Linked DNA regions of Homo sapiens. The protein of the gene in region 4 purifies or fractionates together with the protein of the main gene of each other region. This does not show direct contact. Each region holds a gene or a part of one and is shown on either strand. Other genes may lie near its edges.

The links.
Region 1: the proteins of ZSCAN12 (region 4) and IL37 purify together in Homo sapiens (affinity purification with mass spectrometry; one large-scale study listed by BioGRID and IntAct). This does not show direct contact.
Region 2: the proteins of ZSCAN12 (region 4) and PGK2 purify together in Homo sapiens (affinity purification with mass spectrometry; 2 studies listed by BioGRID and IntAct, with this or other methods). This does not show direct contact.
Region 3: the proteins of ZSCAN12 (region 4) and JUP purify together in Homo sapiens (affinity purification with mass spectrometry; one large-scale study listed by BioGRID and IntAct). This does not show direct contact.
Region 5: the proteins of ZSCAN12 (region 4) and CTSV purify together in Homo sapiens (affinity purification with mass spectrometry; 2 studies listed by BioGRID and IntAct, with this or other methods). This does not show direct contact.
Region 6: the proteins of ZSCAN12 (region 4) and CASP14 purify together in Homo sapiens (affinity purification with mass spectrometry; one large-scale study listed by BioGRID and IntAct). This does not show direct contact.
Region 7: the proteins of ZSCAN12 (region 4) and POF1B purify together in Homo sapiens (affinity purification with mass spectrometry; one large-scale study listed by BioGRID and IntAct). This does not show direct contact.

What each region holds. Positions count from the first base shown.
Region 1 is NC_000002.12:112,916,186-112,919,646, forward strand, and holds the end of IL37 (interleukin-37), read left to right. Parts: intron 1-943; coding exon 944-1,063; intron 1,064-1,449; coding exon 1,450-1,592; intron 1,593-2,375; coding exon 2,376-2,624; 3' UTR 2,625-2,697; downstream 2,698-3,461. UniProt on the Homo sapiens protein: Immune regulatory cytokine that acts as a suppressor of innate inflammatory and immune responses involved in curbing excessive inflammation.
Region 2 is NC_000006.12:49,784,657-49,789,039, reverse strand, and holds PGK2 (phosphoglycerate kinase 2), read left to right. Parts: upstream 1-1,754; 5' UTR 1,755-1,852; coding exon 1,853-3,106; 3' UTR 3,107-3,380; downstream 3,381-4,383. UniProt on the Homo sapiens protein: Essential for sperm motility and male fertility. Not required for the completion of spermatogenesis.
Region 3 is NC_000017.11:41,765,978-41,770,329, reverse strand, and holds part of JUP (junction plakoglobin), read left to right. Parts: intron 1-652; coding exon 653-912; intron 913-1,122; coding exon 1,123-1,361; intron 1,362-2,749; coding exon 2,750-2,951; intron 2,952-4,352. UniProt on the Homo sapiens protein: Common junctional plaque protein. The membrane-associated plaques are architectural elements in an important strategic position to influence the arrangement and function of both the cytoskeleton and the cells within the tissue.
Region 4 is NC_000006.12:28,386,661-28,390,267, forward strand, and holds part of ZSCAN12 (zinc finger and SCAN domain-containing protein 12), read right to left. Parts: 3' UTR 1-3,607. UniProt on the Homo sapiens protein: May be involved in transcriptional regulation.
Region 5 is NC_000009.12:97,028,896-97,033,230, reverse strand, and holds the end of CTSV (cathepsin L2 preproprotein), read left to right. Parts: intron 1-182; coding exon 183-282; 3' UTR 283-3,554; downstream 3,555-4,335. UniProt on the Homo sapiens protein: Cysteine protease. May have an important role in corneal physiology.
Region 6 is NC_000019.10:15,055,064-15,059,072, forward strand, and holds the end of CASP14 (caspase-14 precursor), read left to right. Parts: intron 1-94; coding exon 95-211; intron 212-292; coding exon of another isoform or gene 293-366; coding exon 367-470; intron 471-921; coding exon 922-1,026; 3' UTR 1,027-3,230; downstream 3,231-4,009. UniProt on the Homo sapiens protein: Non-apoptotic caspase involved in epidermal differentiation. Is the predominant caspase in epidermal stratum corneum. Seems to play a role in keratinocyte differentiation and is required for cornification.
Region 7 is NC_000023.11:85,369,108-85,373,459, reverse strand, and holds part of POF1B (protein POF1B), read left to right. Parts: intron 1-4,352. UniProt on the Homo sapiens protein: Plays a key role in the organization of epithelial monolayers by regulating the actin cytoskeleton. May be involved in ovary development.

The DNA.
Region 1 (3,461 bases), on a different chromosome or scaffold from region 4:
GCTTCACATAGTGTGGTGGTTACTGTGTTTTCATATTGTCACATTTGCCATTTTCCAGCCACCCACCCATTCTTGACAGTCACTGGCCCAGCCTGGGGGCCCCTGTTCTTTATCAAACAAGTGCCTGAGCTCTTTGCAGAGGTGAGGGTCACCTGTCCAATCAGAGGCCAGGAGGGAACGTTCCCTTTTAAGACCCTACTCTAGGCAGGCCTGGCCCAAATGAGTTGCTAGGAGCCCACGCCCTAAGAACCCTCTGAGCACTGTTGTGGCTGGTCCTGCTGCTAGAAGTTGTTCCTCCAGGGCCAGGTGCAAGATTTGTGGCTTTTCAAAGGAGCCACTAAAGCTCCAGCTCAGCCTTGCACCGTGCTGGGCTCCTGGGGGCTTCCTGCCTCCAACCCTCCCAACTCTTCCATCACCGCTCCCTTAGCCTGGCCAGTGCAGGGATCTGTTCCACTCTAGGCACTGCTGAGGGAATGATGCCTCCAGTCAGAGGGTGCAAAAAAGAGAGTTAAGAAAAACAATGATTATAAAAAGTCCTTTTTATACGCCAGACATTTTCTTTGCTCAGGCTAAGTGCTACTTATTTGAGTAAGCATTTTAGTTCTCATAACTCCTCTCTCAAGTAGGTGCTGCTATTACTTTCATTTCACAGATGAGGACATTGAGGTTTGGAGAGACTTAGTAACTTGTCCTCTGTCCTACAGCAGAGCTGGGATTTGAATCTATCTGTCCAAATCTGGAACCCATTTGCTTGCACAGAAAGCTTAATTGCTTGTCCCAGCAAGATAGAAAGCCTGGGAGTGGAAGAAATATTCAGTGGCTGTGATGTCTGAGCCCACAGGCAGGGTGGAGAGCTAGGGCTGGGGCCCTTGGACGTGGGGAAGAAAGGGCTGAGTCTTCCATTTTCAATGTGAAGTGTTGATATCTGGTGATATTGATCTAGGTCCAAAGGTGAAGAACTTAAACCCGAAGAAATTCAGCATTCATGACCAGGATCACAAAGTACTGGTCCTGGACTCTGGGAATCTCATAGCAGTTCCAGATAAAAACTACATACGCCCAGGTGACTCTCAGTTTTGGCTGTGTTTTCTGCCTCCACCTAGCAGGGGTAAGGCCTCCTGCTAGGTGGGCTCAACTCCATGCTATACCATGCCCCATCTCCAGCAGGTGGTGGAAGCGAGGAGGAGAGGCCCCAGGGACTAGGGCATCAGATGAAGGGTCTCTAGCAATGACCAGATCTGAAAGTAGTCTTTCTGGAAGGGCTGGAGAAAAAGAAGGAGGCAGACACTTAGACTGGAAGAAGAGGAGGCTTAAACCAGTGTGATGGAGGGAGAAGTGGACCACAGAGTCAAGGGAGAGGGACTGTGCATCAGGCCTGAAACCCCAGCAGACAGGAGAGACCTTTCCCTGCTCTCAGAACCCACACATGTTCTGACTGTCTTTTTCCAGAGATCTTCTTTGCATTAGCCTCATCCTTGAGCTCAGCCTCTGCGGAGAAAGGAAGTCCGATTCTCCTGGGGGTCTCTAAAGGGGAGTTTTGTCTCTACTGTGACAAGGATAAAGGACAAAGTCATCCATCCCTTCAGCTGAAGGTGAGAGTTCTAGCTCAGTTTCCTGGGCCTTTGGCTACCCCAAAGTAAAAGGCCAAGATCCTCAATGCCTCTCGCTTTCCTGCAAATTCTTATCTTGGCCAATATAACAGGGACATCCACCTTTCTGGAAGCACCAGGCAGAAGAGCCCCATAACTTCTTCTCTGGTTCCTTGCCCCTTCTAGGGAAGGAGGAGAGACTCCTCACAGCGGGGAGACAGCAAGGAGCTGAGCACCTGTTCTCCTCTCCTGGGCTCACTGGTCCTGGCCCTGGGCGGGTGGCGGTCCCCTCCTGCTGTGGCCCTCCATGTGGCAAGCAACACAATTGGGCCAGGACCCTGGCGTGCTGCTGTAGGGTAGGAGGGTGTGAGGGAGCACTCGGAGGGCAGTGTGTCTGCCCTGCAAATTTAGTCCTGGATGGAGCACCTTTCACTTGAGGGGAGAAATCTTAGGAAGCTGAATTAGATACAGATCTAAGCCATATTCTCTAATTTTAAAAACTATAGAGCTGAGATTTTGGTATCCATCTGACTCTTACGTCTCTCTCTCTCTCTCTCTCTCAGTTTATTTTTAATCTGGGGGACAAGAAGGCCTGGAAAAGAGGGCAGGATTGCTTATCATCCCTTAAATACCAGTACCAAGGCTGACACGTCATCTTTCCCAAGGACCATCTGCCTTCTCTCTTTTCCTCCTCTCCTGTGTAAAGGCCTGGAGGATGAGCACATGTGCTGTGTTTTCCTCCCTCTCAAAGCCTGTGCTATCTAATTAATCCCTTTTACCTCACAGAAGGAGAAACTGATGAAGCTGGCTGCCCAAAAGGAATCAGCACGCCGGCCCTTCATCTTTTATAGGGCTCAGGTGGGCTCCTGGAACATGCTGGAGTCGGCGGCTCACCCCGGATGGTTCATCTGCACCTCCTGCAATTGTAATGAGCCTGTTGGGGTGACAGATAAATTTGAGAACAGGAAACACATTGAATTTTCATTTCAACCAGTTTGCAAAGCTGAAATGAGCCCCAGTGAGGTCAGCGATTAGGAAACTGCCCCATTGAACGCCTTCCTCGCTAATTTGAACTAATTGTATAAAAACACCAAACCTGCTCACTAAACTTTCTGTCATTGGGTTTCATTTCTCATTCATGCTTTAAGGATTTGTGTTTTTAGGATATAGCAAGAAGCTTGTTTAATTACAAAGTTCTGGGTTGGAAAGAGACCGGCTTCTGCTTGTGTACTGCTACCCTGAACCATCAGACATGCATGTGTGTGTCATATGCTATGATGTGGCCAGTCTGAGTGCAATACTTGCAGTGGGAAGGAGCAGCTGGGTGCATGCTGTGCTCTAGAATTAGTCTTTCCTACTGGGGTTTGGTAGATTCTGAGGGCATTGATCCTGGGGCAGAAGTGGCTGAGTCTGTGTCTAGGGTACAGTGTGCAAGAAAGAAATGTAACAGCAAGTCACAATCCAGCCAAGTGATAGTGGAAAAGGGGTAGTTAGGTCCCAGATAAGGAGCAGGGTGACTTGACCTGTGGGAAAGGCACAGAGACAAGGAATCTGGGTCAGATGACAGCCAGGAGACCAGGTGAGGGAGGAGCCAGGTACTGTCTGGGAGGCTTGTCAACAAGGGCATGGTCCTATCACTAAGCAGGGCTCAGATCCTCATAATGGGGGAGTGGAAGGCTGGCCGAACAGAAATCAGGGCCTGGAAACAGAGTGAGGGGGTGGAGACAGGAGACTGAGGCTTGGAAATTAGTTTATTAGTTTTAGCTCTTCAGTTACAAGCAATAATAATAGCTTCTAGCTTATTTAAGCAACAAGTATACTACAAAAGGAGCTTTCTAGAAGGATATTGGGTATATTCATTTCTTACTGCTG
Region 2 (4,383 bases), about 21 Mb from region 4:
TACCTCATAGAAAAGTTTACCACACTAAAAATCCTCCTGTGTATCCCCATTATAGTTGACCACGCTCTCTTAACCTGTAGCAACCACTGATATGTTTTCCATCCCTATAGTTTTGCCTTTTATCAAATGTCATACAAATGGAATTATACAATAACTACAAAATTTTTTTGCCTGGCGTCTTTCAGTTAGTAAGGCACATTTAAGTTTTATCCAGGGCTTTTGTGTAAGTAAATAGCTTGTTTCTTTTCTTTTTTTAAAAAATAATATTCCATTGCATGGATATATCACAGTTTATTTATTTATTACTTGAAGAATATACAATTTTGGTAATTATTAATAAAACTGCTCTAAACGTTTGTTTACAGAAGTTTGAGAGAATACAGGTTTTTGATGTCCTTGGATGAATATCTAGAAATAGGATTGATGACTTGTATGGTAAGTCTATGCATATTTCTAAGAAATTGCCAAGCTGTTTCCCAAAATGTCTGTAGCATATTTCATTCCTGGGAGCAACAAATGAGAGTTTCTGTTACTATATATTTTAACACCATTTAAGTTTGCTTTTAAATGCTGTTGACTCGATGTTCAACATTGAGGAACCGATAAACTGTTTTTTAAAGTGGCTGCACCATTAGACATTCCTATCAGCAATAAATGAGGATTCCAATTTGTCCACTTCTTTCTCAACACTTGTTTTTATTTTTTATTTTAGCCATCTTAATAGGAGATGCCTCAAATATATTTCTGTCAAAGCCTTCATTTTACATATTTAGTTCACTCAACTTATGGAGTAGAATGAAAAAAACTGTAAAGCCAATTTTCATTACTAAACCAACTAGCCACATACATTTGCTTTCTCCAAAAATAGAATATCTTACTCACTTTCAATTCTAATATATGTTTTCATCTTCATGAAAACCATGCATTTATTTTTCAGCTCAATTTCTAAGTTGTACAGGTAGGAAAGCAAACAGAGAGGAGACAAAAAATAAGGAGCCTCATCATAACATTGTAGTCTGAAAGAAATGTCACCATTACTTTCAGCACTTGTTACTGATACTCTCTTTGCTATGATCTTATGGGATTCTCCTGCAGAAGTGACCAAACATTCTTTCATGGTAGTCTGAAAATGGAAGAAGCAAAGTAATGAAAATATGACAGCATTCCCACCACGTCCCAGAATAGATCTAAAGATGAAGACTAACAACAAGCCACATCCTCAAAGAAATATTTATCAAGACAAGGAAAAAACAGAACTATACTATCCTGACTTGAATAAGCAAGGTTTCATATGAAAATCATTATTTCAAATATTCCTTTTATTTGGCACTGCAGAGGTTTTTACATATCAAAATGGTTAAGATTTGACATGAATGAGGTGTATGTAGGTTTGCGGGGGTGGGGGTGGAGTTCTTTTTGTTTTGTTTTTAATAATAAAAGCAACTGTTAACCGAGCTGTGGGGTGGGGGCAAAAAGAGCCAGAAGGCGGCGCACACCTCAGGACTATTCTTGTTTTTTTAGAACCATTCTTATTCTGGGGTTTCTTCACCTACCCAAGTCTCGCCTGAAGCCAGGTACAGCTCTATTCCACTACATGACCCTCTGCCCAGGAAGTTGGAATCTTCACCTAGCAACACAGTTCAGATCGAGATTGACAGGACCATGAGCCAATCACAAAGCTAGATTTGCTTTCCAGTCTAACAGTGGCCGTTGTGCTGGAGACAGTGAGGAGAAGAAAGGGGCGGGACAAGGGCAAAGGCGTTAGAAGTCACCACCGACCCAGCCCCTCAACAGCAAGTTGGTTCTTCAGCATTAAGATCCAGGTGTCAGCCTATGTCTTTATATTGTCAAGATGTCTCTTTCTAAGAAGTTGACTTTAGACAAACTGGATGTTAGAGGGAAGCGAGTCATCATGAGAGTAGACTTCAATGTTCCCATGAAGAAGAACCAGATTACAAACAACCAGAGGATCAAGGCTTCCATCCCAAGCATCAAGTACTGCCTGGACAATGGAGCCAAGGCAGTAGTTCTTATGAGTCATCTAGGTCGGCCTGATGGTGTTCCCATGCCTGACAAATATTCCTTAGCACCTGTTGCTGTTGAGCTCAAATCCTTGCTGGGCAAGGATGTTCTGTTCCTGAAGGACTGTGTAGGCGCAGAAGTGGAGAAAGCCTGTGCCAACCCAGCTCCTGGTTCAGTCATCCTGCTGGAGAACCTGCGCTTTCATGTGGAGGAAGAAGGGAAGGGCCAAGATCCCTCTGGAAAGAAGATTAAAGCTGAGCCAGATAAAATAGAAGCCTTCCGAGCATCACTTTCCAAGCTAGGGGACGTCTATGTCAATGATGCTTTTGGCACTGCACACCGCGCTCATAGTTCCATGGTGGGAGTGAATCTGCCCCATAAAGCATCCGGATTCTTGATGAAGAAGGAACTAGATTACTTTGCTAAAGCCTTGGAAAACCCAGTGAGACCCTTTCTGGCTATACTTGGTGGAGCCAAAGTGGCAGACAAGATCCAACTTATCAAAAATATGCTGGACAAAGTCAATGAGATGATTATTGGTGGTGGAATGGCTTATACCTTCCTTAAGGTACTCAACAACATGGAGATTGGTGCTTCCCTGTTTGATGAAGAGGGAGCCAAGATCGTTAAAGATATCATGGCCAAAGCACAAAAGAATGGTGTAAGGATTACTTTTCCTGTTGATTTTGTTACTGGGGACAAGTTTGACGAGAACGCTCAGGTTGGAAAAGCCACTGTAGCATCTGGCATATCTCCTGGCTGGATGGGTTTGGACTGTGGTCCTGAGAGCAACAAGAATCATGCTCAAGTTGTGGCTCAAGCAAGGCTAATTGTTTGGAATGGGCCGTTAGGAGTATTTGAATGGGATGCCTTTGCTAAGGGAACCAAAGCCCTCATGGATGAAATTGTGAAAGCCACTTCCAAGGGCTGCATCACTGTTATAGGGGGTGGAGACACTGCTACTTGCTGTGCCAAATGGAACACTGAAGATAAAGTCAGCCATGTCAGCACTGGAGGCGGTGCCAGTCTAGAGCTTCTGGAAGGTAAAATCCTTCCTGGAGTAGAGGCCCTCAGCAACATGTAGTTAATATAGTGTTACTTCCTTCTGTTTTCTGTCCATGGCCCTTAAGTCAGCTTAATGCTTTTACATCTCGATGTGACTTTTGTTAAAATCTACTCCTAGATCAAGACCTATGTAATGGACAAGCAGCAGGCCATCAGGAACTCTTAATATCAGCACAGCAATTCATTTTAGTTTGGTCACGCATTTGCCTGTTCAAGTTCTCATTTGAACTTCACCATTGTGCTATCTAGGGAGGACATATTCTTAAGTTGCCTATTAAAGAAAGTGAGCTGAAGAAACTGAATCTTTTTATTTTAGTCCAACTTTGCTATTGTTTCATAATTTGAAACCCAAAAGATAAAACTTAATTTGTTGGGAAAGGGTGGAATGAAAGTTGACAAACAAACAATAAATATGCCCAAATAAACTGAGAAAAATAATTACATATAAAGAACTCATGGGTACCATTAAAGTTCTGCTAAGGGGAAATGTTATACTAAATAGGACCAAAAAAAAGAGAAATGAAAGACACTTATTAAACCCAAGGAATTTTTAAAAAGAAAAGAAATTAAACTCAAGGTAAGAATTATGTTTGTGTGCATATCAATGCACAAGATTACACACAAATGCCAGCTAGAAAAAGAGCTACAAGTTAAACCCAAGTTGTAAATAAGTAATTGTTTTATTTTTAAGGCAGGCATTATTTAATAAATAGATAATATAACTGGTAAGTTCTAAAACTTGGTTTTTGAGATAAATAAAATATATATACATAGCTGGTTTAATAATGGGAAAATAGAGATAAAAATTCTCTATTAGAAAACAGAAGATAAAATGATAAGAAATGTAGAAAAAACAAAAACACTTATTGGAAAATATTTTGCTTTATTCTGTAGACAGAGGTAGTTTAGGGCAATGCTATTAACAAGAATAGTAATTAAGAGTAAAAATGCAGATTAACCTTTCCCAGCTATAATGTCTTATGTCCCATAACCGCAGATCAATTGTGATATTCAATATCCTGAATAATTGAGCTTCAAATATGAATCTTAATACATCTGAAATTTCAACATATTTTAAGCAGAATGTTAATATCATAGTAATCCCAGGAAAGATGTAGGAGTTAGGATTAATGGAACCAAAACTTGAGTAGTTGAAACAAGAATAAAACATGTCGCTCTCTCACATGAGAATCCAGGGCAAATAACATGGGCTTTCCTTTTTAAGGTCATCTAGGGAACCAAACTGGTGAAACAGATCTGTTACTCCCAGTGAGGGGGTTCAGTCTGTGTATGGTA
Region 3 (4,352 bases), on a different chromosome or scaffold from region 4:
TGGAAGCTAGAGAGGAACCTGACGTCTCAGCTGAGGACCCAGCTCCTGCTCTCTGAACCCACAGCCCTGACTTTCCCTCTGATCTGCTGTGAGATGTGATGTTGGTGGTTCTCTGGGCCTCTGTTTGCCTGCCTGTATAGTGGGAGGATTGCTACCGTTGGGGATGATGAGGGTGTAATTAGACTCCTGAGATTTCAGGGTTGAAAACAGACCTGATGGGTAAGGGAGGAGAATAGAGTAGGGGTTTGGGCCCCTGAGTCAGGCTGCCTTATAACCCCTCTGTGCCCAGTTTTCCCATCTGTAAAGTGGAGCCAGTGATAGTACTTACCTTGCAGGGTCGTTGTCAGGTTATGTGAGAAAATATAAGCAGGGCATTGAATTCACTGCCAGGCACATAATAAGTGTGCAAAAAAAAAAAAAAATTCCCTTGATGGACAGAACATGTGGGGCCTATTTTACAGAGATTACTGAGGTGATGGTGACTTCCCCAAGGTTCCTGGTGAGAGGTAGAATGGCCAGTCATGTGCTGGGGGTTTGGGCAGGGCAAGAGGTAGCCCAGAGGACCCAGGTGGGGCTGTCTGTGGCCTGCCCTGCTCCCCAGTGTCTGCCCAGCCCACTGCCTGCACTCAGTCCCTGTCCCCATGGCCCCCAGGTGATCTGGAGTACCAGATGTCCACAACAGCCAGGGCCAAACGGGTGCGGGAGGCCATGTGCCCTGGTGTGTCAGGCGAGGACAGCTCGCTTCTGCTGGCCACCCAGGTGGAGGGGCAGGCCACCAACCTGCAGCGACTGGCCGAGCCGTCCCAGCTGCTCAAGTCGGCCATTGTGCATCTCATCAACTACCAGGACGATGCCGAGCTGGCCACTCGCGCCCTGCCCGAGCTCACCAAACTGCTCAACGACGAGGACCCGGTCTGTGAGGGTCCCTGCTAGGGTGGGGGCTGGGCAGGGAGGGGAGAGAGCAGATGTCCTCAGGGGAGGGACATTGTAGGGGTGGAGGGAGGTTATGACCCAGACTCTCCCGTGTGTGATGAGTCTGACTGGGGCCCTCCTCAGCTCTGTGGAAGGGTATCCCGGCCTCTCCTTAGTGCTCACGTCCCCGCCCCTGCCTTTGCCCTCCAGGTGGTGGTGACCAAGGCGGCCATGATTGTGAACCAGCTGTCGAAGAAGGAGGCGTCGCGGCGGGCCCTGATGGGCTCGCCCCAGCTGGTGGCCGCTGTCGTGCGTACCATGCAGAATACCAGCGACCTGGACACAGCCCGCTGCACCACCAGCATCCTGCACAACCTCTCCCACCACCGGGAGGGGCTGCTCGCCATCTTCAAGTCGGGTGGCATCCCTGCTCTGGTCCGCATGCTCAGGTACCCAACCCTGCTCACTGCATGAGCCCAGGACCCCCTCTCACTTGGGCCTCTCCCCTCCCTTCCCTGAGCTTCCATAAATATCCAGTGAGCACCTACTATGTGCCAGGCAGAAGCACACCCCATCCGGGTGCTCGGTGGCTCACAGCCCAGCAGGGAACACAGGCATGTAAACAGCAGGTTAATGATCAGGATACGACACAGGCTATGGCAGAAGAGCATTGAGATTGCTCAAAGGTGGAATCGCTTAATGGCAGGGGATTGACAGATGAGTGGAGTTTGGCTAGTGCAGAGGAAGGGAAGAGTGTCCCAGGCAGAGGGAACAGCAAATGCAAAGTCCCTTGCAAACTTTCTGTTTCCTGGCCCCCTACAAAATGTGGATTGGCCTCATTTCTTTTTTTTTTTTTGAGATGAGGCCTTGCTCTGTCACCCAAGCTGGAGTGCAGTGGCGTGATCTCAGCTCACTGCAGCCTCCACCTCCTGGGTTCGAATGATTCTCCTGCCTCAGTCTCCTGAGTAGCTGGGATTACAAGCATCTGCCACCATACCTAGCTATTTTTTTTTGTTTTGAGATGGAGTTTTCCTCCTGTTGCCCAGGCTGGAGTGCAATGGCACAGTCTCGGCTTACTGCAACCTCTGCCTCCCGGGTTCAAGAGATTCTCCTGCCTCAGCCTCCCAAGTAGCAGGGATTACAGGCACCCACGACCATGCCTGGCTAATTTTTGTATTTTTAGTAAAAATGGGGTTTCACCATGTTGGCCAGGCTAGTCTTGAACTCCTGACCTCAGGTGATCTGCCCCCCTTGGCCTCCCAAAGTGCTGGGATTATAGGCGTCTGCCACCATGCCCAGCTCAATTTTGTATTTTTAGTAGAGACGGGGTTTCACCACGTTGGCCAGGCTGGTTTCGAACTCCTAACCTCAGGGTGATCCACCTGCCTCAGCCTCCCCAAGCGCTGAGTTTACAGACGTGAGCCACTGCTCCTGGCCTTATTTCTCATTCCCATACCAGGCTGGAAGCTCCCTGAAGGGGAGACACTGATTTCACTCCCCTCTGAACGCCTTGCAAGGCCTCTCTAATATGTGGCCTTCCACATGGTGGTTACTTAGTAGGGATCAGTGTCTAGGGGACCTACTGTGCGCTCAGCACAGGGCTGGGGACTCAGAAGCAGGAGGAGTCATTGTCCCAGTTGGGAGAAGAGAGGTGCTGTTTGCTTCATGCTTAAGAGCAGGGCAGGCTCAAGGAGTGATGAGATTTTAGCAAAGGGATATTTCCAGAGGGGCGTCAGTAGCGGGGAGGCTTCCTGGGGGAGGTGGGAACCCATGCCAGGCTCACATGTATGCCAGGCCTCTGGGACCTCAGCGTACTAACCCCTGCCCACCCCCCCAGCTCCCCTGTGGAGTCGGTCCTGTTCTATGCCATCACCACGCTGCACAACCTGCTCCTGTACCAGGAGGGCGCCAAGATGGCCGTGCGCCTGGCCGACGGGCTGCAAAAGATGGTGCCCCTGCTCAACAAGAACAACCCCAAGTTCCTGGCCATCACCACCGACTGCCTGCAGCTCCTGGCCTACGGCAACCAGGAGAGCAAGGTGGGCCCTCCCCAACTCTCCCGAGGCCTGAAGCCCACCCTTGCGCCATCTTCTATCCTGCACAGCCTTGGGCCGCTGCCCCCTTACTCCTTTTAGATGAGATATAGGTGCAGATATACATGCTTCATCATGCGACTGAATTGCCCAGAATTATTATTTTGAGGATAAGGGAAAAAAAAAATCACTCATCCTCATATAGCCACTATTGTCATTTCGATGTGCTTCCTTAAGAGCTGTTCTGTGGGCAGATTACAGATGTGTACACATCCTTGTCATCATAACAATCTGCAATATTGCATCTGTTTTCTGCCTGATTTTTTTTTTTTTTTTTTGAGACAGGGTCTCACTCTGTCACACAGGCTAGAGTGCAGTGGTGTAATCAGGGCTCACTGCAGCCTTGACTTCCTGGGCTCAGATGATCCTCCTACCTCAGCCTCCAGAGTAGCTGGGACTTCAGGCGTGTGCTACCACGCCCGACTAATTTTTTTTTTCCTTTTCTTTTCTTTCTTTTTTTTTTTTTGTTTGAGATGGAGTCTCACTTTGTCGCCCAGGCAGGAGTGCAATGGCACGATCTCGGCTCACTGCAACCTTCGCCTCCCGGGTTCAAGCGATTCTCCTGCTTCAGCCTCCCAAGTAGCTAGGATTACAGGTGCCCGCCACCACACCCAGCTAATTTTTGTATTTTTAGTAGAGACAAGGTTTCACCACATTGGCCAGGCTGGTCTCGAACTCTTGACCTTAGGTTGTCCATCTGCCTCGGCCTCATAAAATGCTGGGATTACAGGCATGAGACACCGTGCCCCACCCCCAACTAATTTTTTATAGAGATGGGATTTCTCCATGTTGCCCAGGCTGGTCTCAAACTCCTGGGCTCAAGTGATCTGCCTGCCTTGGCCTCCCAAAGTATCAGGATTACAGGTGTGAGCCACTGTGCCTGGCCTGTATGATGTTTAAAAAAAATTTTTTTTTGCTATATTGTCCTCAAAACCACCCTCTAATAATGACAGATTGCCTTTCCTTTCCCCTTTCCCCCTCCCCTTTCCTTTTTCCTTTTCCTTTTCCTTTTCCTTTCCCTCTCTTCCTCTCTTTCTTCCTTCCTTCCCATTCTTTCCTTTTCTTTCTTTTTTGAGACAGGGTCTCACTGTGTTACCCAGGCTAGAGTGCAGTGGCATGATCCTAGCTCACTGCATCCTCAAACTCCTGAGCTCAAGCATTCCTCCCATCTTAGTCTTCCTGATAGCTAGGACTATGAGAACATACTACTGAGCTAATTAGCACCCGGGCTAAGTTTTAAATTTTTTGTGGGGATGGTGTCTTGCTCTGTTGCCCAGGCTACCCTCAAGGAATCCTCCTGCTTCAGCCTCCGAAATGCTGGGATTAAAGTCATGGGCCACCATACCC
Region 4 (3,607 bases):
CCAATTAGTAGCCTTATTCTACTATATTTCCTCTTTATCCTGGAAAGCTAGTTTAATCCTCTTTGATGCCTACCTGGAAATTCCATGTCACTCCACCTTTTTTTGGTACTACAACTGTATTTAAGCATGAGAAATAACCAGAACAAAACCCCCACGTGTATTTTTATTTTTATTTTAATTTTTGTTGAGATGGAGTCTTGCTCTGTCACCAGGCGGGAGAGCAGTGGTGCCATCTCAGCTCACTGCAACCTCCACCTCCCGGATTCAAGCGATTCTCCTGCCTCAGCCTCTCGAGTAGCTGGGATTACAGGCATGTGCCACCACGCCTGGTTAATTTTTGTATTTTTAGTGGAGATGGGGTTTCACCACATTGTCAAGATGGTCTCAACCTCCTGACCTCGTGATCCGCCCACCTCGGCCTCCCAAAGTGCTGGGATTATAAGTGTGAGCCACTGCACCCAGCCTCCACATTTATTTTTAAACAAGTATGAACTGTACCCTCCTATAATAGGCATATTCCATTGTTCTGAGTCTTTGTTTATGGTCCCTTTATAATATTAGGTATATAAGAAAGATTAAGTAGTGTGCAGAAAGGCAAATGGAGGAATGTGCGCAATGACAGAACATATTAAGCAGAAAATGAACTGGAAAGACCCCAAGTAAAGGCACTCAGAGGAGTAGAAGGCAAGTTTAAAACAACGATTGCATTCCAGCGAGCAGTCAGATTAAAAGAGAGGCTCTGAAGTTACTATGAACAGTAATTTCAGTTTGGATAACAAGTCTATAAAATCAGATTAGATAAGGAGTATGCATAGCATGTTTGGTAAGGAGAACATTCTCACACAGGTTCTCATCACTAAGTAAAGTCCCCTCCACTGAGAAGAGTTTCTAACAGTGAAACAGCAAAAGAACTACCATAACTAACTCCATTTTTGTTTAAGGACCCTTTACCTATTCCTCCATGTAGGCTAATTTTAGAGCAGAGATAATATGCAAAAACAGCAATCATGTAGTTTTAAAAACTAACTCTGGGATTAAAGAAGTATGTATAACAATTATGTTTTGTTGAAGATTTGCAGGAGCATTGTGACCCAACCAATGACAAAGAAGTTCCCAACCTCCTTGGACTCTTGCTGGCGCCCAGATGTCTGTGGTCATAGGTCACCTCTTCATCCCAACTCTGTCCTCTTCCCTTTGCCCTTAACATAAAAAGAGCCGAGCCCAACATTTGTACTGACTTAAGATGGTACTTTAGGACAGTAGTCTACCATCGTCTCAGTTTGCTGGCTCTCCGAATAAATCTGCTTTTCCTCGCACCAATTTTCTTCTCTCCCGAGTTTTGGCTTTGGAGCCGCAAGCAGCTGAACCTTGGTTTGGTTACAAGTTTGCATTCTCATTATGTGAGAAATGGGAGGCAGGGTAAACTTAGGTAGAGCACAGGCCTCACATACTTAGAGCTACAGAGCTCCCAGACTCACTCTGGGTTCCTTGTTTCCTGGAGGAAAAAAACTAGGTTTCCAATCCCAGTTGCCTCAGTGCCTCATGTGTGCAACTCCAATGCTGGGGTTATGAAAAAAGCCTAACTAAGCAGTCCTCAACTTATGAGTAAGTTGTTTTTCAACTGTTCATTTGCCTTTCTCTCTTGTGAACTCAAGAAGGTTTTTCCACACAGAAAGTCATGTAAGTTCCAATCCCAGAAGCCAATTTGACACCTAATATACCTGAATTATAATACTTATACCATTATGACTTCTATGGGAATATGTGTTCATATTTACAACTTAGCTAGAAACATAATATTCCTATAGGACCAGAGACGCTTCTAGTTCCAACCCAGGGATGAAATTCTATACAGGGTTTATGGCTAGAGAGGCAAGAGACAGGGGCACTAAGAAAATGGGGCTGGGGAGTATATTACAGGAGTGAAGAGAAGATGGGACAAAGACACAGGGCTGTGTAGAAAGGTAATTAGGAGTGGGACTTACTAAGGAAGAATGCAGATTACCCTTCTTTTATTTTTCCCCTTCCCCTTTTGTCACTGTCTCACCACTTCAAACCCACTAACCAGCTAGAAGTGTGAAGAGAAGAGAGGACTGGAGTTGTGTTGGGGTGTAGTAGGAAGTTAGTCCCAGAAACTGTGGAGTTTGCTGTGGCAGGGTAGAAAAGGAAGGAAATAACAGGCCATCTCAGTAGAGATTAAGAATGATTTCTGTAAATAAAAAGACAGATCAGGAGCCATGTGTACTTCCATGTGGCTTATCTGTTGTCCACTAAAATAATCAAGACAGGTTCTCATCCAAAGCAGAATTTTTACTCAGCAAGGCAAGGTTAGAGTCAACCAGTTTTGGTTGATTCATTTTTCAGAAGCCCAAGGGATAGTATCTCTAATTTGGGGTCCTTTTATGTGCTCAAGAAGTAAACAAACCAACAAAATGTAAATCAGTTCTCAAGAGCCATTATTAGGGAATTCAGAACATAGTGCTAACATGAGATCTGAGAAATAAAAGAAGGTAAAGCATAAAACAGAGAAGAGCACCAGGCCCTCCCCTAAATAAACAAACAACACAAGGCCTTGCACTCAGAAGACCCTTGGAATGTAGGTCTGTCTCTCTTTCTTTGAATACTTAAATCTGAAGGGATGGAAAGACCACCTAAAAATCCTAGTTTTTTGGCATGATGGGGGTCTAATTCCTTGTTCACTCCAAAGAGCTGATGGCACATGTTCCCTGTAAGGATCTCCTTGTGCTAAAAGTCTGCAGTGGCCTTTAGTTTATAGGACTGTGTTCAGGCTTCCCCACTTCGCAGACAGCCATGAAGTCAGCTGTCATTCAACTCAACGCTTCTCAAATTTTAAAGTATATTAAGTAACTGTGGAGCTATAAAAATGAAGATTCTCAACTCCCATCCTAGGCCTAATGAAGCAGAATGTGAGTGGGATTCAGGGATGTTAAACAAGCTCCAAACATGATTTTGATGTTCATCAAAGTTGGAGGATCACTAGAGTAATGGCCAGGACTAGAAGTCAAAAGACCTGCACTTAGGTTACTGGTCTTTTTCTTTGTGTGGGATTATAGCTATGTTGCCATCTCCATAGGCAAGAGTATTCTCATTTTTAAAATGGAGAATGCTTTTGATTTACCAAGGTATTTTAGGAATTGAGAAAAGTGCTCTGTAAATGTCCAAGTGCTATAAAGTATTAGATGAAATTATTCACACTCTGGCCCTCTTATGTGTCTGTCCCCAAGCTGTTTCCAACTTAATGCTATTGATTGCCCAATTTGCACGAACCTTTTACTTCAGGTTGGCTAGTCTTTTCCCTGATGCTTCCAAACCACATGCACTCTTATGATGGCTTACATTTGTTTTACCCGCTTTCTCCCTTTTGACTGCTAAGTCTGCCCGTCAAATCCTTATTTTAAATAAAATCTTTCTTGACCACTCCAGGCAAAAGTAACCTGTCCTTTAGAATTTACAGCACTTATAGTCTGTTACAAAGTACCACTTTCATTCGACACCATCTGGTGCATCAATTCTACTCTCCTGTAGTCTTATATGACTAAATATGTGGATCTTATCTATCCCAAACTAGGCTACAAACTCTCTGAGA
Region 5 (4,335 bases), on a different chromosome or scaffold from region 4:
TGCTGGGATTGCAGGCGTGAGCCACTGTGCCCAGCCTCAGGACATTTATAAATGGATATTAACAGCATTTAGAATAGTGCCTGACACATGGGAAGCACTGTTTAAGTATTAGCTATTATTATTAATGGAGCCAATTTTCCCTTGATTCCTTGTATAAAATGGAAAACCTGCTCCTCTTTCAGCTGGGGTCCAGAATGGGGCTCGAATGGCTATGTAAAAATAGCCAAAGACAAGAACAACCACTGTGGAATCGCCACAGCAGCCAGCTACCCCAATGTGTGAGCTGATGGATGGTGAGGAGGAAGGACTTAAGGACAGCATGTCTGGGGAAATTTTATCTTGAAACTGACCAAACGCTTATTGTGTAAGATAAACCAGTTGAATCATTGAGGATCCAAGTTGAGATTTTAATTCTGTGACATTTTTACAAGGGTAAAATGTTACCACTACTTTAATTATTGTTATACACAGCTTTATGATATCAAAGACTCATTGCTTAATTCTAAGACTTTTGAATTTTCATTTTTTAAAAAGATGTACAAAACAGTTTGAAATAAATTTTAATTCGTATATAAAGGTGGGCCTTTTTTTAATGCATTGGCTTTTTGTGTAGTCAGGAAATATAATTAAGCTCTGAAATAATAACTTCATGTGCCAATGGTATGTTAGGAGAAAGATGCTAGCAGAAAGCTGGCTTCCTGGCTCTTGAGTAGTTATAAAAATACAGACTTTATATCAGCTGCCCAGTTACTGTGTGTTACCCAACTCCTGAATCTACCAAAATTTGATAAACAATTTGGAAGGACAAACCTACATTTTTTTTTTTTATGAGACGGAGTCTCTCTCACTCTGTCACCAAGGCTGGAGTGCAGTAGTGTGATCTCAGCTCACTGCAACCTCTGCCTCCCGGGTTTAAGCAATTCTCTGCCTCAGCCTCCCGAGTAGCTGGGATTACAGGCGCGTGCCACCACGCCTAGTGTATTTTTAGTAGAGAGAGGGTTTCACCATCTTGGCCAGGCTGGTCTTGAACTCTCGACCTCGTGATCCACCTGCCTCAGCCTCCCAAAGTGTTGGGATTACAGATGTGAGCCACTGCGCCCAGCCCCTAAATTGTTTTAGTAAAGAAGAAAGCAGTTGACTTTTTAGAAAAGGAAATGTCTTCTTCCTTTGACACATAACCTCAAGATGGTTAGGTTACGTGATAAAAAGTGAAGCTGCTTGTTACTGGAGCCTCTCTGAATTGCTGGTGACCACTTTGCAGTCTGAGGAAGACGCAGGTGCAAGTAAGTTACCAAGGGTATTTTGTTTTCATTCCAAGTCTCTGATGACATATTCCACCTAGCTCTTCTAGAAAAGCTTATTTGTTAACTAGTGTTAGCAAAAATAAATGGTGTGGTTAACAAATCTCAGGCATTTGACAGTAGCTGGAGAAATTTGTTCAAGGTCCACAAGAGATGAGGCTGGGCTACAAAAAGAGGCCTCTGGCCGAAGATGGATAAGAGATCACAAGTGAAAGGTCAGAAGTCACTAGGCCAGACTCTGGCTACCTAATCCCTGAATTAAAAATAAACTCAAAATGGGGGGAAAAAGGCTAAGCATATAGTTACACAGGTAGTAAATACAAATAAAACGATATTTTTGCATATTTAAAATACTGGAAGAAAGTACACCAAACTTGTGGGTGAATTATGGGTGGTTATTTAACTCGTTTAGTGAAAAGCATGTATTTTTATGAGCAGGAGAAAATAGTAAAGATATACCCACATTCTGCAGGCTAAAGGAGAGCCCTGTGTGTGTTTTAAAAGCCCATGTTTCCAGTCAAATAAAAAATTACCGGGGATGAGCTGGTGAAATTTAATCGAAAGGTGATCCATTGTGAATGCAATGGGAGGGAAGGGGCATGTGGGACTGTGTATCCCAAAAACCCTTTGATAGCCTATGTCCACAGCCATCTCTGGAAAATCCAGTCTACCATATTCAGTCTTGAGTTTTCTCTGAGAAAGGATTCCTTCGTCTTTGCAGCAGCAGGCTAAGTTGGTACTCTCCACAGATTCTTGGAACAACAACCCAGGCTCTAAGGAAACATCTAGGCACTAAATTGAATGAAAGAGTGATGGCTTTTTATTCAAATAAAAAAATTTCAAATCTGTCAAAACAGCACCCCTCGGAAAACTAAAATAGAGATATTTCAAGATTTTATAATTTTCAAAGACCTTTGAAATATTTTAAACTTGTGAAAAGTTACAAACCTGATGTGTTGTCTAAAAGCGTTTTTCAAACAAGCCAGTAGACTTGAAAAATCTAGTCTGAAGCACAGACTTAACCAATATTTGCTGGGGATATGCCCCCAAATCTGGCCATAAACAAAATCTCTGCAGTACTGTGACAGGTTCATGATGGCCATGACGCCATGCTGAAGGTTTACCGGAATGAGAGCAAGGAACACCTGGACCACCCAGGGCGGGAAAACGGCTTAAAGGCGTTCCTAAACTACAAACAATAGCATGAGCGATCTGTGCCTTAAGGACATGTTCCTGCTGCAGATAACTAGCCAGACCCCATGCCTTTGTTTCGTTTGGGAAGGAATACTTTTAGTTAATCTATAATCTATAGAAACAATGTTTATCACTGGCTTGCTGTCAATAAACATGGGTAAATCTCTGTTCGGGGCTCTCAGCTCTGAAAGCTGTGAGTCCCCTGATTTCCCACTCTGCATGCTATATTTCTGGGTGTGTGTCTTTAATTTCTCTAGCGCCTCTGGGTTAGGGTCTCCATGACCAAGCTGGTCTCGGCAAATATTTCCTATACTCGAACATCTAAATTGTTTGTTTTCTTACTTGAATTGCAAAGGAAGTAAGGAAGGGTGAGATAGAAATCACTGAGCATATTAAGAGGGAGGAGTTTGCTGATGTGGGAGTGTAGTTATGACACTTGGGCATCATACTAGAGGCTATGGACTTAGCAATAAGGAAACATCCACTCAGCCCTATGTGTGGTTCATGTGTATGTTTTGCCTATGAAAGTTGAAACTGTTTTCTAAATGTTATTTCCTTTTGTAACTGATAAAATTTCTAAAAAGCAAAGAAGAAACTTTTCTGTATTAAAAATAACAAACATTAGTAAATGTATATATACAGTCATGTGTTGCTTAATGATGGGGATACATTCTGAGAAATGTGTCTTGGGTGATTTCATCGTGACGTGAACATCATAGAGTACACTGACACAAACCTAGATGGTATAGCCTATTACACACCTAGGCTATATGGTACAGCCTGTTGCTCCTAAGCTACGCACCTGTGCAACACATCACTGTGCTGAGTACTGTACACAGTTGTAACACAGTGGTAAGTATTCGTGTATCTGAACAGAAAAGTACAGTAAAAATATAGGATCATAATTTTATGGGACCACTATCATATATGCAGTCACTGACCAAAACATCACACAGCACATGACTTGTGTGTATGGATATCTCAATTGTAAACAATTTCACAAATGTTCATTATCTCTTTTTAAGTAAGTTAATAAGTAAAACTATTACTAAGCTGCAACGTGTTCTTGTTCTGCAGTGTATTTATTCATTTGGATACAGTTGATTCTTGAACAATGCAGAGGTTAGGGGCACCAACCCTTGTGCAGCCAAATATTTGCATATAACTTTAATTCCTCCAGAACTTTTCTACTAATAGCCTACTGTTGACTGGAAGCCTTGCTGATAACATAAACAGCCAATTAACACATATTTTGTGTATGTATTGTAAAATACTGTATGCTTACAGTAAGCTAGAGGAAAAAATGTCATTAAGAAAATCATGGCCAGGCACGGTGGCTCACACTTGTAATCCCAGTGCTTTGAGAGGCCGAGGCAGGCAGATCACGAGGTCATGAGATCAAGACCATCCTGCCTAACATGGTGAAACCCCATCTCTAATAAAAATACAAAAACAAAATTAGCCGGGCGTTGTGGCCGACACCTGTATTCGCAGCTACTCAGGAGACTGAGGCGGGAGAATGGCGTGAACCCGGGAGGCGGAGCTTGCGGTGAGCCAAGATCGCGCCACTGCACTCCAGCCTGGGCAACAGAGCGAGACTCCGTCTCAAAAAAAAAAAAAAGGCAATCACAAGGAAGATAAATTATATTTACTAAGTGAAAGTAGATCATCATAAAGGTCTTTATCGCTGTTGTCTTCACATTGAATAGGCTGAGGAGGAGGAGTAAGAAGCAGGGTTGGAGTTGCTGTCTTGGGTTGCAAAGGCGGAAGAAAATCTGTGTATAAGTAAGTGGACCGTCAGTTCAAACCCATGTTGTTCAAGGATCTACTATTTATTGGG
Region 6 (4,009 bases), on a different chromosome or scaffold from region 4:
CAAAACACTGGGAATACAGGTGTGAGCCACCCTGCCCAGCCCCTTTCCTTACCTTTCTCTCTGACTTTGCCTCCTCCTCTTCTTGTTGTTTCAGAACAAAGGGACCCCGGTGAAACAGTAGGTGGAGATGAGATTGTGATGGTCATCAAAGACAGCCCACAAACCATCCCAACATACACAGATGCCTTGCACGTTTATTCCACGGTAGAGGGTATGAGCTCCCAGCTGGCCCAGGGATCCCTCTGCTCTTCCCCCTCTCCTGCCACTCCCAACTCCTGAACCTCTCCTCCAGGACCCACGCCCTTCCAGGATCCCCTCTACCTACCCTCTGAAGCTCCCCCGAACCCACCTCTCTGGAATTCCCAGGATACATCGCCTACCGACATGATCAGAAAGGCTCATGCTTTATCCAGACCCTGGTGGATGTGTTCACGAAGAGGAAAGGACATATCTTGGAACTTCTGACAGAGGTGAGTTGACAAAAGGTAGCTGGGACCACCGCCCAGGCCAAGAAGGGTGCAGGCGGAGGGGGCTGAGCCTCCTCCTAACCCCTCTCCATTTCCCTCAGCTCCAAATCCAAGCCAGATCTCAATACAGAAACTAAGAAGCCCACTTTCCAACAACTTTCCCAAATGCAGGGACTCTTAAAAGCCACAGTATGGGAGATAAATTTCTATAAACAAATCCCCCTTGGATATAAACAATGTTTGGGCAAACTGTTTTCTTTTAATGTTTATATGTTTTTATTGCAAATTATTTAAAAAATGCCCAGCCAAGGATTCCATACAAACTATGGTATAGGAAGAGGCCACAACGGTCTCTCATCTTAGGACAAGAATACCCACCTGCCCCGTTCCCTAACCCTCCCCCCATAAGTCCATGACACTGACTCCTCCAAGCTCACCACACCTGTTGCTGCAGGTGACCCGGCGGATGGCAGAAGCAGAGCTGGTTCAAGAAGGAAAAGCAAGGAAAACGAACCCTGAAATCCAAAGCACCCTCCGGAAACGGCTGTATCTGCAGTAGAAGTAGAAAGACCAGGAGGAGCTTTCCTTCCAGCATTCTTTCTGTCTCACAGAAATTTAGAGGCAGCTCTTACCTCTCCCCAAGATCTTCTGTTCCCAAGGCCAAATGGCACCCAGTTTCTTTTCCATCACACCCTTCATGCAGGTCCTCCTGTCCTTATTAGAGCAAGCCAGCCAAAACTTAGCACAAGGCATGGTGGCAACATTAACATCACCTCCCTCAGGCTGGACTTTCTATCTTTATTAATGCAACCGAAGAGACCTAAGAGTGCATTCACTTATCCCACTTTCTGTTCCTGTGGTCTTCTTTCTCCCATGAAGCAGAAACTGGATAAAGCTCAAGATTTTCCATAGACAAACCAAAGCCCACTCATCCCCTCCTACCCCAATCCAACCTCTGCTGGCTCCTGCATCTCACTTGGAGGTCAAACCTCCTCCTGAGGCCAATGCATTCCCAACTTCCAGTTCTTTCCTTTACCCTGGAGAGTTAGTAAGGTAAGAACCATTCTTTCTCTCCAAAACCACTCCTCCTTGGCTGGCAAGTTGGTGTCCTAACTCCGTTCTCTTCCTAGCTCATGGCCTCTCTAGATAATAAAGTTGTCTCCTCCTTTCTGGATCTCTTCCTCCTAACACCCCTCCCCTGAAACCCTGGACTCTGCCCTCTCTCCAAGAAAATCCATCTATTCAACTATTCTTGCATTCAATTACTCTAAATGAGAGCGTGTTGGAGCTATGGCAAATTCCCTGTTGTCACCTTGCTATTTTGCAGACAACATAATATTTAACCTCTCATAACCAGAGAGGTTAAATAATTTGTCAAATGCAATACAGTAAGACAGAGGCAAGGACAAGGTTTGACTTCCAGCCCAGCCTCTTTTCCACAACCTGCTAAATCCTGATCCATCTGAAAACTTTTCTAATTAGTGAAGATGACTAATAAAAATTTTCCCTATCTCCAAGGTAGGAGCTTTCTGGAAGTTTCTAGAAATTTTCAATAACCACCAGCCAAGGTTACCTCCAGGTAACCTTGCAGCACCAGGCTGGAAGTCAGATCGGCTTCACTATCTTCCAACTCTACAGCCTGTATCTCTCCATCCCCAGCTTTGACCTTTCCTGCTCAAGTAACCTACGGGCACATCCAGCGTCACTAAAAACTCAGGGCTTTTCTTCCCGGTTACTCCTCCAAGCGTTCCCTGGTATCCTCAACCTCAGATCCCAGGTTCAGATTTCTGCAGTCAATCTATGACCCCTCTCTTCTTGCATCCTTCATATGCCACCAGACACCATGCCCAGTCCAGCCTGATTTTGAAACAACTTTCATGCCGGTCTTCTCTTCCCTGACATGTTACTGTCCAGGCTCAAGTCCTCAGCTTCTCATATCTGCATCTTTGCAACCAACTTCCTCCCTTGCCTCTCTGCTTTTCCATCCCACTTTTCATGTGTCCTCCATACCATCTATAACAGTGATCTCCCTGGAACACTCAAGAAGACACAACATACCATATTATTTAAAGACCAGGGTACTGGACAGTGGCTCACACCTGTATTCCCGACTTTGAGAGTCTGAAGCGGGAGGATCACTTGAGGCCAGGAGTTAAGAGACCAGCCTGGGCAACACAGCAAGACCCTGTCTCTAAAAAAAAAAATTAATTAACTGGGTATGGTGGCACATGCCTGTAGTCCCAGCTACTCAGGAGGCTGAGGTGGGAGGATGACTTGAGCCCAGGAGTTTGAGGCTGCAAGGAGCTATGATCATGCCAGTGCATCCCAGCTCTAGGTGAGACAGTGAGATCCGGTCTCCAAAATAAATCAATCAATCAAATAAAGACCAAAGTCAAACCGCACATCAGGATCTCTCACACCCTTCCAATTTTGCCATCTACCAGCACTTAGCTAAACCCATCTCCCATCTCTTCCACCATGAATTCACTCTTTCAAAAAGGCTAATGTCTTCTTACTCACCCTTGCCTCTAAGCCTTTGCTATCACCATTTCCCCCAAGCTGGAGGGCCCTCCCTCTCCCTTTACCCCTCTTCCACTACCTCCCACCCCTACTTTTTCCAGAAAGCCATTTCCTCTCTTTTTTCTGATTGATCCTTCCCTCTCACCCAGGATTAGATGCTGGAAATGACCACTTCTGGAGGGCAGGGAACAAGCCCTTAATCTGCATAATGAGTGTTCAATAAACAGTTGTCAAACTTTGAAAGAAAGTGTTGAAATCTTTGTTCTGTGCTGAAACAGTGAGGCTGATACAAAAGGAGTTATGGATTTAATTTCTTTTTTCCCAGTGGCTGGCTTCCTCCCAGGTGTGTCTATCATGAATGGAGAATCAGGAGCTTCAGCCTGTGTCTTCTTTCCTTTTTTTTTTCTTTAAGAGATGAGATCTTGCTCTGCCACCCAGGCTGGAGTACAGTGGCACCATCATAGCTCACTGCACCCTCGACCTCCTGGGCTCAAGCAATCCTCCCACCTCAGCCTCTCATGTAGCTGGGACTACAGGTGTGCATCACCACACCTGGCTAATTTTCTTATTTTTCGGTAGAGATTGGGTCTTGCTATGTTGCCGAGGCTGGTCTCACAGTCCTGGTCTCAAGCAATCCTCTTGCCTTGGCCTCCCAAAGTGCTGAGATTACAGATGTGACCCACCACACCGAGCTCCTGTCTCTTTCACAAAAACAGACGTGTTGGGAATTTGTAAAGTTACAGGCCACACTTTCATGCTGAATGGCTATCTTTTACATAATTGTTCCATCTCCAGAATGTTTCCAAGGAAGTATGCAGACAGAAAAATGTCACTTTTCAGAACTATAAGGGACATTGGAGGTGGGCTAGTTACAGCATCAAAGACATTTAGCAAGTGTGCCATCTCTCTAGCCTGGTGCCCATGGCAGACATGACTAATCAATCACACCTATTTTTCCTAATGAACTCAAGTGTTACCTCAAAGCCTTTCTCCTCTGAGCACTTGGGAAGCTGACACCTGTC
Region 7 (4,352 bases), on a different chromosome or scaffold from region 4:
TCTAGTAAACAACTTGATAGAACCTCAACAATTAGATAAAACATGCATTATTATGTTTATTGTACAAATTGTACGATGTACAAATAAAGACAATATTCATTGTGTATTATTTATCTGTTAAACAAATAAGGAAATTGAGACTCGAATAGCTCAAAATAACTTGCCTATTTAGTACAGCTGGTTAGTGAATGCCCTGAGTTTAAAAACCAGCTCCTGATATTTTCATTACATCAGCTATCTCCCTTAATTAACTTTCGATATTCATGATTTCAGTTTAAATTAGTTCACATTTTTTATTTCAACAAAACATTTGATGATTACCCTTACTGTATATTTTCCCATTCTAATGTTCCATTATCAGAATGGAAAATATCAAAAATACATTAGAGGACAAAAATAGTTTTCCCTCTAGTTTTCAAGGTCTTGCTCAGAAATAATCCTAGAATTCAGGGTATATATTAAGTTTTTAAGGTTTTCTTTCTTTCAAAGGAGAATAACACCTTTTGAGCTTCTGCCTTCCCTTCTTTCTTTACTGCACTGAGCTACTCAAAAGCATTTTCACTAAAGTAAATAACTGAGACATTTAGGCCATTTGCACATCATCTGATTTAACTCTGAAAACAGCTTATATATAAAACTGCCCTTTCTGCACATGTACCCCAGAACTTAAAGTATATATATATATAGTATATATAATATAATATATATAAATATGAATAAAATATATTTATATATATATATACTTTAAGTTCTGGGGTACATGTGCAGAAAGGGCAGTTTTGTTACATAGGTATAAACGGGCAATGGTGGTTTGCTGCACCCATCAACCCGTCACCTACATTAGGTATTTCTCCTAATGTTATCCGTCCCCTAGGTCCCCATCTTCTGACAGGCCCCTGTGTGTGATGTTCCCCTGAAAACAGCTTTTTTAACAAATAGGTGGAAATAAGATATACTTTTATGAATAATGAATTCTCTAGGGAAACCAGAGTTTCCTAGCTCAGATTTAGTGTGTACAAAGGTATGGACAATTATCTCAAGTGATGTAATGAAATTATCCCCAAGCCCACATAATTATAAACCAAATTCTTTTTCATTTCTTTTTTTTTTTTTTTTGAGACAGAGTCTCGCTCTGTCGCCCAGCCTGGAGCACAGTGGCACGATCTCGGCTCACGGCAAGCTCTGCCTCCCAGGTTCACGCCATTCTCCTGCCTCAGCCTCCTGAGTAGCTGGGAATATAGGCGCCCGCCACCACACCCGGCTATTTTTTTGTATTTTTAGTAGAGACGGGTTTTCACCATGTTAGCCAGGATGGTCTCGATTTCCTGACCTCGTGATCCGCCCACCTCAGCCTCCCAAAGTGCTGGGATTACAGGCGTGAGCCACCACGCCCGGCCCCAAATTCTTTTTCACCAGACTCTACTTAAAGTTGCCAATAAAGTATAATGTTTGTGTATATAGCAAGTCTGACCCACAGGAATAAACGACTCAACAAAATGCTGAATATTTTATCAGAAAAAGTAAGGTCTTCCTGCAAAATTGAAGAGATTAGATGATATGAGCATTAAACAAAAATTCAATGGTTTATTGAGTTTTAGAGGCTTGTGAGTACACTCTGTAAATGTACCACGCGTTTTACAAATTCTATTGAGTTTATGGAAACTTAAATTATCTAATCAAGGCTGTTCTCTCACACAGCTACTTGTGGGTGGGTGTCTTATTTTCAGGCCTCCAAAGTTGCTTTTGACACTGAATAATTTTAAAAGTCCCAGTATTTGACCTTCTGTTATAAGGACTAGTCAAACTTAACCATATAATTAGGTTACACAACTTGAAAAACAGAAAATATAATGAAGCAAGCAATAAACGTGGCAAAATATGGTGATTAAGAGCATGAGTTCTGGAGTCATGCTGAGTTGGAATTCCAGCACCTTAGCATTAGCTGTGTAATCTCCATCTGGTTACCTATCCTACCTCTGTCTAACTTCACTTGTTTATGTAATGGGGTTATAATAGTATCTTCTTTATGGGGTTATTTTGAGTGTTAAAGAGAATGATCTATGTAACATGTTTGGCACAGAAAGCTATTAATAGGTGTTAGTCATCATTATAATCATCATCAAAAGGAAAACAATACTGACAAGTTTAAAAAATTTGAAATTGTTTTGTTTGTATGGAAAAATAAGTTGGGAATGGTCTCTTATATTCACAGAACGTCAGAAACAAACTTAAAGATCCTCTAATCCACACTCGCCCACACCCATATCCCATTTCTCATTTCTCACATGAGGAAACAAATCTCAGAGAGAGAACATGAGTTGACCAGTATTACAAAAGTGGCTAGTAGTATAAATGGGAATAAAATCCAGGTCTGCTGACTCCAAGTCTAGCACTTTTTCCACTATGTCATGATAACCACCACCACCCCATTATCGCCTTCAATTATTTGGTCATCAGGAATGTGGGGCTGTGGCACAAAAGGCATAAAAACAAAAACATTGACTGTTCATTGAATTTAATAGTTTCAACATGAAGGATTTAGGTAAGCTATACACAGATGAGTAACAAAATTAAACACTGACTGATACAGGTTATTAAGAGGGAGATTTGGATTGTTATTCCTGGAGTGCTTTTAAAACTAAGATCTCCTTTTCATTCATTCTTTCAAAAATATTTTGGATCACTTTCTATGGAATGGTCAATGGCTATTTATGGGATGACTTGCTGCAATCTTGCCTAGATCTTGATGCCATTGAAAGTACCTTTCAACATCAAGGTTTTGTTCATTCTGGACATTTACTCACACCATCTTACTTAATTTTGTAGACTTCCAGGGAAAAGGGGTTTTCTTTAGCAAGTATTTCTGGAATTAATAAACCTATTTTCAGAGAGGTTTTCCCCCTTATGATCAGCCTAAATCCATACTGATGCAATTTAAATTCATGCTGTTCAACACCATATGTCTAAATATCTTTGACTCATATTAAGCTACATCTTAATGTTGTAATTTTTGAACCTATTATATTTGTTCTCTAATGTTTCCATGAGGGTTGCGTGGGAAAGCCACATTTGTCTAGATGATCAATTTTAATAATGAAGGCTGAAGTAGGGCTAAAAATAATTGAGTACATTATAATCTATGGACTTAATGTTCCAGCTTTCCACATATAAGAAGATTAAAGAATTCCTTCATTTTAGGGCAAGACTAGTCTTTGCTCAAATACAACTGTTTGCCATTTAAACATCTATTATCTTAACATCTGAATAAAGTAATACTGCTTATACTAGCATAAATAAATGTCTTTATCTGTGATGTGTGATGTGTGTGTATTCCTATTTGTTTAAATTTCTGCAGATTTATAAAACTTCTTAGTACGCTTTTGTATCTTAAAAGCTAGTCCAGTTGGCTAGTAAGATTTGCTATGTTTCATTTGCTAATGCCATCATATTTGAATTGGTTACAAGAAGGACAGAGCTATCATTTCTACAACAGCTACCAGATACTAACCATGTGTATAGTTGTCTTCTCAGAATGATACTAGTATAATATTATTAGCCCCAGCCTAAACAGACCAAACATCCTCTAGACATGAATACCTTCACACACTGCTGGTGGATGTATAATTATCATAGTCAAATTTGGGAAATTAGTTGGGCAGTATCTGTTCAAATGAATAACACACATACTCCATGCCCCAGCAATCCCAATTCTGTGTGGGATTCTAAAGAAACATGTTGCACAAGGATGCTCATTGCAGCACAGTGGAAACCTGGAAACAATATAAATGTTAATCAGCAGGAAAACATAAAAACAAGCTATAAAGCAAGCATTTTGGAATACTATTAATTGAAAATAATGAGTTAAAACATGTATCTAGTACATAATACAAGAGATACTGTTTGGTTTAAGTTGTAGAACAATGAAAGCAATAATATTACTATTTATACATAGGTATATATGTAAAGACATCTTAACTGACAACAATAGTCACTTCTGGGTAAGTGAATGGAGGAAAGATGGTCAAGAGAAGGTCTTTAACCTTATCTATATAAATGTTTATATTAAGAATGTGTTCATGTGTTATTCCATAACTAAAGAGCACCCCTCTTTTTTCTTGTCTTCTTGAATCTGCTCCTCTTGGGTCTGTGGGCCAAACCTGCCTGCACATGGTTGTATTTATAACCATTTTCCTAAACTGGATAATGTGTACCTGTTTTGTCTATAATCTGTAATTCTCTGCATTTGTCTGAGCAAGTCTTCTCAATTATTAGCAGAAAATCTGAGAATATATGCAAAAGATTCCTAGAAATACTGAGCCTGCAGTATTGCTGTTGATATAAAGGGTGGTGGA